Linked DNA regions of Homo sapiens: region 1 is linked to region 2. The links come from fine-mapping of genetic effects on gene expression. A gene starts in region 2. The other region holds a variant in brackets. All regions are shown on one strand. Distances are between the middles of the regions. Region 1 overlaps ICA1 (islet cell autoantigen 1). Region 2 holds the start of ICA1 (islet cell autoantigen 1).

The links.
Region 1: its variant is fine-mapped to the expression of ICA1 in whole blood (INTERVAL, PIP above 0.99).

The regions. Positions count from the first base shown.
Region 1 is chr7:8,140,206-8,145,205 of GRCh38, forward strand. It overlaps ICA1 (islet cell autoantigen 1), which reads right to left. Exons shown (of 14, transcript NM_001136020.3): 9 at 3,670-3,767; 10 at 1,560-1,612. Among named protein-coding and RNA genes, the nearest start is that of ICA1, 120 kb to the right of the region's middle. RefSeq lists an enhancer at 3,448-3,677. The variant T/C (reference allele first, on the strand shown) is at 2,160.
Region 2 is chr7:8,259,995-8,264,994 of GRCh38, forward strand. ICA1 (islet cell autoantigen 1) reads right to left here and starts at 2,173. Exons shown (of 14, transcript NM_001136020.3): 1 at 2,100-2,173. It overlaps ICA1-AS1 (ICA1 antisense RNA 1), which reads left to right and starts at 2,231. Exons shown (of 6, transcript NR_125740.1): 1 at 2,231-2,425; 2 at 2,586-2,832; 3 at 4,597-4,686.

The sequences.
Region 1 (5,000 bases), 120 kb before region 2:
GATTCGTGCCGTGGGTACACTGAGGCTGGAGAGCTTGCATCCATATAGACAGAGAGCTCTTCTGTGGCCAACAAGAGCAGGCCCAGCTGCTCCCTTTCTCCTCCTGCCACTCGCTCCCCCTCATGCTCTGGAGCATGGTTTCTCTGACTTTCTCCAGGTCCTCCTGTGCCCATAACCTTTGCCCAGGCTGTTTCTTCTGCTTTGACAAGTCTTGCCATAGCACTTGGCTTAGCCAGTTCCCTGATCTCCTAAAAAAGTTGTGTCCTCTCCATCACATGTGCCCAAAGCCCTACACCTCTCCCTTGGAGCTCCCACCAAAGCTGGAGCTGCTGGATTACTTTGGTAATGATTAGATTACCATCTGCTTGCCCTTTTGACTGTCAGCCTCATCCTGGAAGGGACTATGTCTGGTGCACCACTGTATGCCCAGAGCCCAGCGCCATGCCTGGCACAGAGGCGGCTCAATAAACATCTGTTGAACAAATGAACAAGTGCATGAGTACTTGTACGTGAAGGTGTACATGTGTGAATGGATGACATGAAGCAAGCATTAGAGGCAAAAAAGTGAGTCTTTTGTTGTTGTTGTTGAAAGGCAGATAGGAGAAAAGCAAATAGGAGGAGAAGCAAGTGGGTGGAAAGGTAAAAAGGAAGATAGAGGGTGAAGGAGAAGAATGGAGCAGAGGAGAAGTTCTAGAATCTCCTTTGCCTCCTCCTATCTTCCAGGAAGGTACCACACCAGAGGGTGAAGCAGGAAGAGATGCATATGTCCCCAGGGGGACCAGGTAAACACAGTGTTGGGGTAATTTTAGTTCTCTTCATAACACCTGTAAAACATTCCCCCGCATCTCCGAGGAGCTTGAGTGCCAGTGAAGTGCTTGGTACTGTGTCACATTAATTCTACCACAATCTATCAAACCCTGTGTCCCTCTGTGAGGTGAAGGACCAATGAAAACACTGGCAGTAACAGCAGGAGACAGAAATAGCTGATGAGCCTGCACAGCACACTGTGCCATCTCCCAACGCTCTGACCCCTTCTCCTAACACATCAGGTTCAGTTCACCTGAGGGATCAGGGGTTGCTTGGCACTGGCAGGCTGAGGCATCAGCTGGCAGGGCAGGGTGAGCAGCTCCTATCTGTTTCCAACATTGACAAACATCCACCCGCCCCACACATACCGCAAATCCACCTCTCCTGAGGTCATAGCCTCATCTTATGAAAACTAGAACCAGTCAGGGTCACAGCAGAAATCTTATAATCCGCTGTGAAAAGAAACAGCGATTTGCCAGTTCCCATCGTGGCTGCCCCTCTGAAGAGCTGCTGCTGATGTGACTGTGATGTGATTTTCTGGTTCACAATACACAGCCTCTCTCAGTAATGCTGTAGGGTTGACATGGTGGATATCTGAACATTTAGAACTGAGTCTACAGGAAGCAAATTAGCCTTTTCTCAGTTGAAAAAGAAGAAAGGCCTAGGAGGAGTTTGTCAAAAAGTAAAATGACTTGGCTGTTAAGCATTAAGTAATATTTCAGAAGCAATTCTAAATAAAAATCAAAACTTACTCTTAAAACTAGAGGATTCCTTGCGCTGGTTTTCTTCCTCTAATGAAATTAATCTTAAAATAAAAAAGAGGTTTAGTCATCAACTTCTACCAATGTTATATTTATGATACAGCCAGACTTTCAGTACAATATTACTTCACTTTTAACACAAACACATACACCACACACACGCACACGAAGAAGGGTCAACATATAGTCATTTACATGCCAATTTGCTGGCCTTCTTTCCCTTTCTGTAGCATCTTAATATCTGAATTTGCTTTCATCTCGAGGCAAATATTCTGTAAATATCTAGATGGGCAGTTAGATATAAATAAGATAGACGCATACAGTTATCACCTTAAAAATAGTAAAAATTGATAGTTAAAAAAACTGTAAAAATATCAATCAGAATCCATTTCTTCTGATTCCTAGTGTTATAGGAGAGGACACCTCCAGAGGTTAGCTCGGCTACAGAGGCTGCAGGCAGGACCACTCATAAATCCAGGCTGACCATCTCCTACTCAACTCTCACCACTTCTTTAAACACAGAGACACATCACTGCCCTTGAGATTCACTTGGTGCCTCCGAGCCTTCCTCCTAGCACCGTGATGCACCTT[T/C]GTCTGCTATTTCTAAACAAAATTCACGTTCAGTGTTCACTGTCATTTTAAATAGTTACTGGGTTATACTTTGTGAGCTTTCAAAAATGAAGCACTGAAGTATTTGAGAAATCTGAATTAATTAAAACAAATCAAGAAAAATCCCAGGTAATCCACTTCCAAGTAAAGGTGAATGCTTTATTTTGATTGTATGAACTTATATGGTGAAAAGAAGGTGCAGGGACCCACTTCAGGTCTCACCTCTTACTACACAAGAGTAAGTGGGCAGCCCCTTAACCTTCCGGAACCTTCCTTCCATCTTTTACATGACAAGGAAAATCCCAGCCTTGACGTCACTGAAGGTTGTCATGAGATGGAATTAACATAAATAAAACACCTAGCATTGTATCTGGTTCATAGTAGGTGCTCACTAAAATGATAGCTAGCACTATTACCATCACCAGGAATGGGTTAAACTGGTTCACCATAAAATAGCCAGTTTTACTAGATTCAGATCACATTCTACAGTCTGTCCTTCAGTGAGAACTTGTCTTCATTCTGCATCAAAAAATTTATCTAGTACATATACTCTTTAAAATTTAAAAAGGCTAATATTGGCAGCAACTTTTCCTGTGGGACAAAAAATATATCTGAAAGTCGATTTAGAAATACAATAAAAGTATAAGCCTGTTTTACGATAAGACTGTCATCTAAATTTTTTTTGTGTGTGGAAAAGGAGTAGAGAATAGAAACGAGGCCATCCATTTTGTTTTCCTAGGTCGGCCAGTTCAAAGATTAACTGCATTCCTGCAAGCTATTATATCTCCATAGAAAATGATACAGATCCACATTTCAACCTCCTTCTCAATGTATGAGAAAGGGAACCATGCACCACATATGTTGAAAAGTTCATCTCAGTATTTAAAATGACAAGAGGCACCTTCTTTGTAAAGGGGCATGAAATGGAGATGGAGCAGTCATTTCCTGTACTTGAAGCTGTTCTCTGTTTCACAGAGAAGAAAACAGACATTCTGCATGGTAGAAAACACAGTGCCAAAATCCAACACTTTCATATGATGATGCCTTAGTATGCATGTATCCCAGGGCAATTTCATAGGTAAGCTCCCTCAGTGAGAGAAAAGCCAGGGGATTTCCTATCTAGAAGAGCATCTAGTGTTGACAAAGGACCAGATAGGGTCCAGAAACCAGAGAAAGTGCAAAGCTGGGGCTCAGGTCACAGGCAGAGAGCCAGGGAATGCTGGGGACATTTGCCCTGTCTTGTTCCAGTCAGCTCCTCACAAGTGTGCCCTTCTAAGTCCCCTGGAAACCGATCTCTTACTGGGATACGTGAGTCATGACCTAGCAGGAGCATGCGTTAAAGGGGTTTGGCTGGGATGCTAATACATCTACTCTGAGAAGTGAGGAAGTAAGACAAGTCTGCGTCTGAGGCCCAGCCAGGTTCGGTCAGCGAGAACCACATAACTCTCACCTGTGGGAAGAAAGATGCAGAGGGAAGGAACCTGTGACTTACTGGCTCGGCTCCTGCACGGCTGCATCTGTACTTTCCTGCTGGTTGATTTTCTTCTTCTCTTCTTTCTCAACTAATTTTTTCATAGGGTCTTGTAAGCTCTTGATCACGAGCCATAGAAAAATGAAAAAGAAAAAAAAAGAAGAAGAAATAGAGACAAAAAAAAGAAAAGAAAGGTTATCAATTAAAAAATTCAACTGCCATTTGTCCCAGCAACCAAACTTTGAATTACAGGTATTGGGAGGTGACCTTGAACCAATCAGCTGGAAGAAATAAAATTTTATATGGTGAAGCAACAATGTTCTCAGACACATCCGAGAAATACTAGCATATATAGCAGAGCTGATTTGCCACAAGATTTATGTTTTCCATTTTGTGATAAGTTATTCAAACGTGGCCTTTTGGCTATTGCTAACTTTATTTTTCAACTTCAACATGTAGTTAAGATAAACATTCTGTTCTGTTCGCAGCCCACACACTGACAAAGTAGAAGTTCCTCCCACCTCCACCAGAGATGAGACGATTTCATTTTGTTTTAAATTTTGTTTGCTATTTTGCAATCTAAAACCCAGTTTTAAAAAATAACAGAAAACAAAACCTTTTCTTAAAAAACCAAAAATAGTGGCTTAACATATTCTGACAACCTAACTCCCACGAGTGGACAGAGCAGGTGCATCCAAATCTTTGTAGATTAAAATGGGTGAGAGTCTTCTTTTGGCACATCATTTGTTGGAGTTACTATTTTCAAGGTTAACTAAATATTTAAGTTTTTTTTTTTAAACAGCAAGTGCCTAGAAACTGTATACCAGTGACAATGATCCTGAAAGAAAAAGCAAAACATTTCTAGAACTGAATAATGATTTATACAAAAAGATCTCTATTTCTGGCCCTAATTAAAATACAAACCTATAAATACAAAATAAACATCTCAGGATACTTATCCTTCTTATATTCTCAGAACTACTAAAATCCAAGTCATGAGCCTGGGGCCTTCACCTTGTTTCTCCTGTCCTTCTCCTGCCTATCGTTCACTTGTCTGACACACATAGGAGGCAATCAGGTTTCATGGCCAATTCTGATTGATTAGTACTGGCTGACTGGAGGGCCAGTGAAGATGGTTCTCAGGCTGTGTCTCGGCAGAGCAGACCTGTGATTGATTTTGGTGTCTGCCATGGACACCAGATGGATACTGGTGTCACACTTCCAAACTGCCAGCTCTGTTTCTCTCTCTGCACAGAGTAATTTTCCTAAAACACCCACGTCATCATGTTATCCTTCTTTTCAAGAATCTTATTTCTTGAGAAGGACCAGCGTATTTCTTTATTGTAAGAACT
Region 2 (5,000 bases):
GGAAAAAAAGGACACTAGTGACCAGCGTGCTGATTATAAACACTGCCACCTACCCTCAGGCTCAACCAACGAAGAGGAAAAATTCATCCTGACACTTGGGGCCTGTTAACTTCCTCCCTCTCTCGCATGAGGTTTCTATAATCTTAAAAGTTCATACCAAACATAGGTTTATCCTTCTACGTTATGGCATAACTACCAGACCTCCATACCGCTAATGCTGCTTGCACCTGAAAAAAATGTACTATTTAGTCAAATACCTTGAAAACGTACTGATTTTGAAGGCTCTGAGTAACAAAATTTTCTATACTTTTCGTGAGATTGATCTTTATGCACTGCGGTAAAGATGCGTAGAGAAAGCAGTCAGATAGTTACTCAGGTGTTCCAAATGGGGGAAAATAGTTACAAAATAAACCACCCAGGCAATTACCATCCAGTATCTTTAGCACTCAATGATCCACGGGTGGAGGATACAGGGTTAACGTTTTTTAACATCAGGTCTCTCCACAAATAGCCCGCTGTAGCTTAACTGTTACGTTTTCTAAAGATTCATCTTTATAAACAGTACAATTATTTCCCTTTGTAATACAAACAGAAACAATTAGAAAGCAACATCTCCTGCAATTAAGATGTATGTACAGTATTAGTATAAAACCAAAGAGTGATATTTGAGCTATTCAGGATTATAAATTGATTTTGTCCCTGTGGTATTCTCTACAAAGGGTGTTTCAAAAATAAAGACTGAAATCTAAAAATATATCTTTGGTTTGAAAACTTACTTAAAAGCATTTTTAGAGAGTGTGTGTTTTAAACAGGGGGTATGAAATTGCATCGGGAGCCTAGATTTCAAACTAAGCATTTCTTATTTCACTCCCTAACCACAGAACAGTTCAGATCTCAGATTCAAACCAGAGGGCCACAGAAACCAATTTGAGATTTTCCGAAGAGACTTCACTGAAACGTATGGACAAAAACATGTTTGCGATGAGTCATATTTTATAGGACCTTAATGGCCAATAAATGCCTTATGTGTCTTTCTTCCTACATTCAGTATCACTCCCAAGCAAGCTGGTGACATATTTTCCAGGCCTTGATAATTTTTATACCGTTACCAGATCTCGGTTACTAAGATTCATGAACAAAACCCTTTCTTGCGCTAATTTTTTAATGCCATCTAAATGAAGAGAACGCGATTCTTTCCAAACTAACTCTCCCCAACCAGGCAGTTAATGCCCTTCGCCAGAATAAGGGCGCGATACTTTTAAGACCCCAAAGAGAAGCTCAGGTGCTTTGGGGGTACTACAAGTAAAAAGACAGTGGGAAAGGTTCCTGGAGAGCCGCTTTGGGGGAAAGGCAGACATAACAACAGGATATGTTCGTTTCTAGAGGAAGCAGGAGCTGCAATAGCCCCGGAGCAGGAAAGGCGGAGTCAGCAGCGCCCAAAGGAAACGGGCGCGCCAGGGTTTGCTGGAACCGGGGTTGCTTAGGGGTTCTCGCCCCGTCTAGTCCGAGACTGCTGAGCACCTCGCCCCCGGGGGACCAAGCTCAGGCCTCCTGGCACTAGTGGTTATAAAGAGGTACCCATATGCTCTCTGCCGCCCCTGCCAAAAAAAGGGCCACGGAGGGGAAGAGAAAAAGCACACACCAGGCGCCGCGGCAGGTGAACTTGTCAACAAGTCAACCCTGGACGCAAGTCCCTGCCCACCAGGGAGCTCGGGGTCCTGGGGCCGGAGCCGCCGGGAAGGCGAGGCGCGCGGTGGGTGGGTGGGGTGGGCTGGCATGGGTGCCGGTGCTCCCAGCGCTGGGGCCGGAGCGCGGAACGCTTCCCTACCGCTCCCCCGGGGCTGACGCACGCTCTCACGGCGCGCGCATCCTCCAGACCTTCCCAGGCCGGAGGGAGGAGGGGAGGGGAAGGGGCTGATGCGGTTCCCGCACCGGGATCCGGGACCCGAGGAGGCGACTCGCCTATCACGCGCCGCCCGCGGAGGGCAGAGAAGGCAGCTCCTACCAGGCGTCCCCGACCGTCCCGGCTGCCGGGCGTCTCCTGCTGCTTCCTGCAGCCCGCCCGGCGCGCCCCCGCCCCGACCCCGGAGGGCAGGTACCTCGGAGCCCCGGCCCCCAGGAGCCTCCCGGCCGCGGTCGGAGCGTCCCTCCGGATCACTCATCCGACGTCAGCGTCAGCCGAAGGCGAGGGAAAGGGGCGGGGGGAGCGCAGGAACCGGCCCTTCCTGCGGCGGCCGCCACCAGCCGGAATAGCAACCGGCGGAGCCCGTGCGCACCGCAGCGCAGCGCAGCGGCCGGGGGGTGCGGGCGCCCTCGCCGCCCGGCTACCTACCGCCGCCTGGGCGCCGCCGCTGCCTCCCTTCCCCGCTTCTACCCTCCAGCAGACGCCCGCCGGAGCGACCCCTCCCAGGGTGACCGGGGGAAGGTGGGTGGCGTTGACCTCACCTTGCTTGGGGAGGGTCGGGGACTCGGGGAGTGAGTTTCTCTCTCTCTACTCCCCGGGGTCTCTCCTCGACCCCCATCTCCTGGGGTATCCCCCGCTCGGATCCGCCGCCCAGAGTGACCCCGCCCCTGCTCTCCGGCAGGTGTTCCACGTGGCCATAGCGTTTGCGTCACAATGACCTGGCGGACAGGTGGGAGCCACAGCGTACACCCCAGGGTTCCCTCTGTGCTGTGCGTAGTGCCTACTGCTTGCTTCCAGGTTAAATTTCTGTAGCTTTAGAGGACAGGAGACTTCATGACTTCACTGCCAAGAAAAGTTACAGAGGCCTGCTGTACCTGGAAATCAAGTTTGAGCTTCGAGAATAAAGGTCATGTTTTAAAAACAGCTGTGTATGTATAGGTATATGTTTTTCATTTCCATATATTTCTGTATCTTTTATTTTTAAGTTATTGCCATTTGTAGCAGTTTCATCTTCTCTTATCCTTTGTCACCAGGAAAGAACCAAACCATTGTTTCTAGAGACCCTGCAGTATACAGATCACAGGAAGAAAAAGTGTTGGCATAGCTGCTTCCTAATATTATCTATGTGGAAATGAAACCTCAATGTAGTATGACTTCATCCCTAGTTATGTTATACATTTATAAATAAGTTCATTCAGTCGTCGCTGAAACAATTTAAAAGGGCCGAATGATAGTTATTGAGTAATGATGCTGACGAATCAGAAATCCTGCGCTAACATGGATGGAGTGCTAGCTCTATGTCCGGCACATGCTGTATGCTTTATATTTAATCCTTACAGCAACCCAATACTGTAGATAAAATCATTATCCCGATTTCACAGATGAAGACACTGCCCAGAGTGCCATAAAGAGATTATTGAGCAGGGATTTGAATCTGAACCAGGAGACTTAGCTTAATCTCAAGATAGCATGGTGTCTTGCCAGAATGGATGGAGAAAAAGTATAGAATATGTTGACATTTTAATAGAAAGATAATAAGATACCTCCAGAAATTTACATAACCTTTAAAGTTATTCTTTGGGGATTCTGTTTGTCATAGATTTGAGCCTGTCCTAGTCTTAACACGAATTTTGGAGCTGAGTAAACATCTCCTTAGTAAGTGTGTATGAGTAAACAAATCATGAATATGGTCTACAAAATAGCAAATTGTTGAAAAGCTAAGATTCAGGAGAAATTTTCAGAGAGAAAAGCATTGCTTATATATATTTGGCTTTTATAAAAAAAAATTCAAACTAACGTGTTAACAACGCAAGCCAAATGATTTTGCTGTAAGAAAAAAAACCCAAAGCCTTTAAAATGAGAAAGTCTTCCTTACAAAAGAAAGATGATTAAGATATGTTAAGATACATTGATTCCAAGAACTGTAAATTTATGTGTAAAAAGCTATTATCGGGAGTTAAAAGGATAAAGAGATTATTATTCTTTAACAGAATGAAGTGCCGTAATGAACATCATAGGTGCCCGATAAATGTTGACTGAGCGTTATCATCAGTTAATTGAAGCATTGAGAAAGGACTAAATCACCTGAAAAGTTTTTCCTGACTCTGTAATGTTCTCCTTTCTACCAGTTACATGAAAACTTAATCAGAAGCCCCATTGGTCAAAGGCTGGCTTTGGGGCAAATATTTAAATCTGTTACAAAACAGCCAGTAGAATGGGAGGTTGTGTGTGTGTTCAAAGTATCCCCTCAAAATGCAGATGATTGGAACAAAAGCATGAAGGGAAAAAACGGGGACAGCTGAGCTGCAACTGATTACGCAGTTTTCTTTTATGCTTTCTGAATTCCAAGGTGAAAACGATGACTGTGAGTCTAACCTGTTACAGAGGCTAAAAGTGGCTTCAAAAGCAATGTCTAAAAGAGAACAAATACATGATACAAGCATTATGTAGTCAACATGGCACTGAAATTCTTTGGGCTCCCGGAGAGTTTAGGAGAAAACCTTAACTGATTTTTCTTCATTCTAATTATTGTCCTAACACTTAGCATAATATTTGAGAAAGGAAATAATAGACAACTCCTGCTCATTCTCCATCACCACAATGAGTACTTTTCCTTCCCCTTAAATAAAATGGCTCCATCAATAACACTTGCATTTGTTTCTGAATAACCAGCTGTTGTTTCCATCTTGCAGAACACCAGTAAGGTGCTAGTGAGAACCCGAAACAGTTTCTAAGGAGAATGGCTATTGAATGATGGGATCAGAAATTAGGAGAGAAATAAGGTGCGTTTTCCAGTGTACAACAGGATGACAAAATTTTCTATGAAAAAAATCTTTACATATTCAATTCAATAATTTTTTCAAGAGCTTCCCAGATTCAAGATATGCTAATAGGACCACAAGAGTTGGATTTGTGTTAAGCTACTAACAGAGACTTGGAATAGCGGTGGATTAAATGAAATAGGGCTTTATTTTTTCTCACTTAAATTGGAAGGTAGGCAGTCTAGGGCTGGTGCGATCTCCACTGTGTCACTGGGCTGTTGCCCTTCTGTCATTCTATTCTGCCATCCTAGGCAAAGCAAGATTGCCCAAAGGTA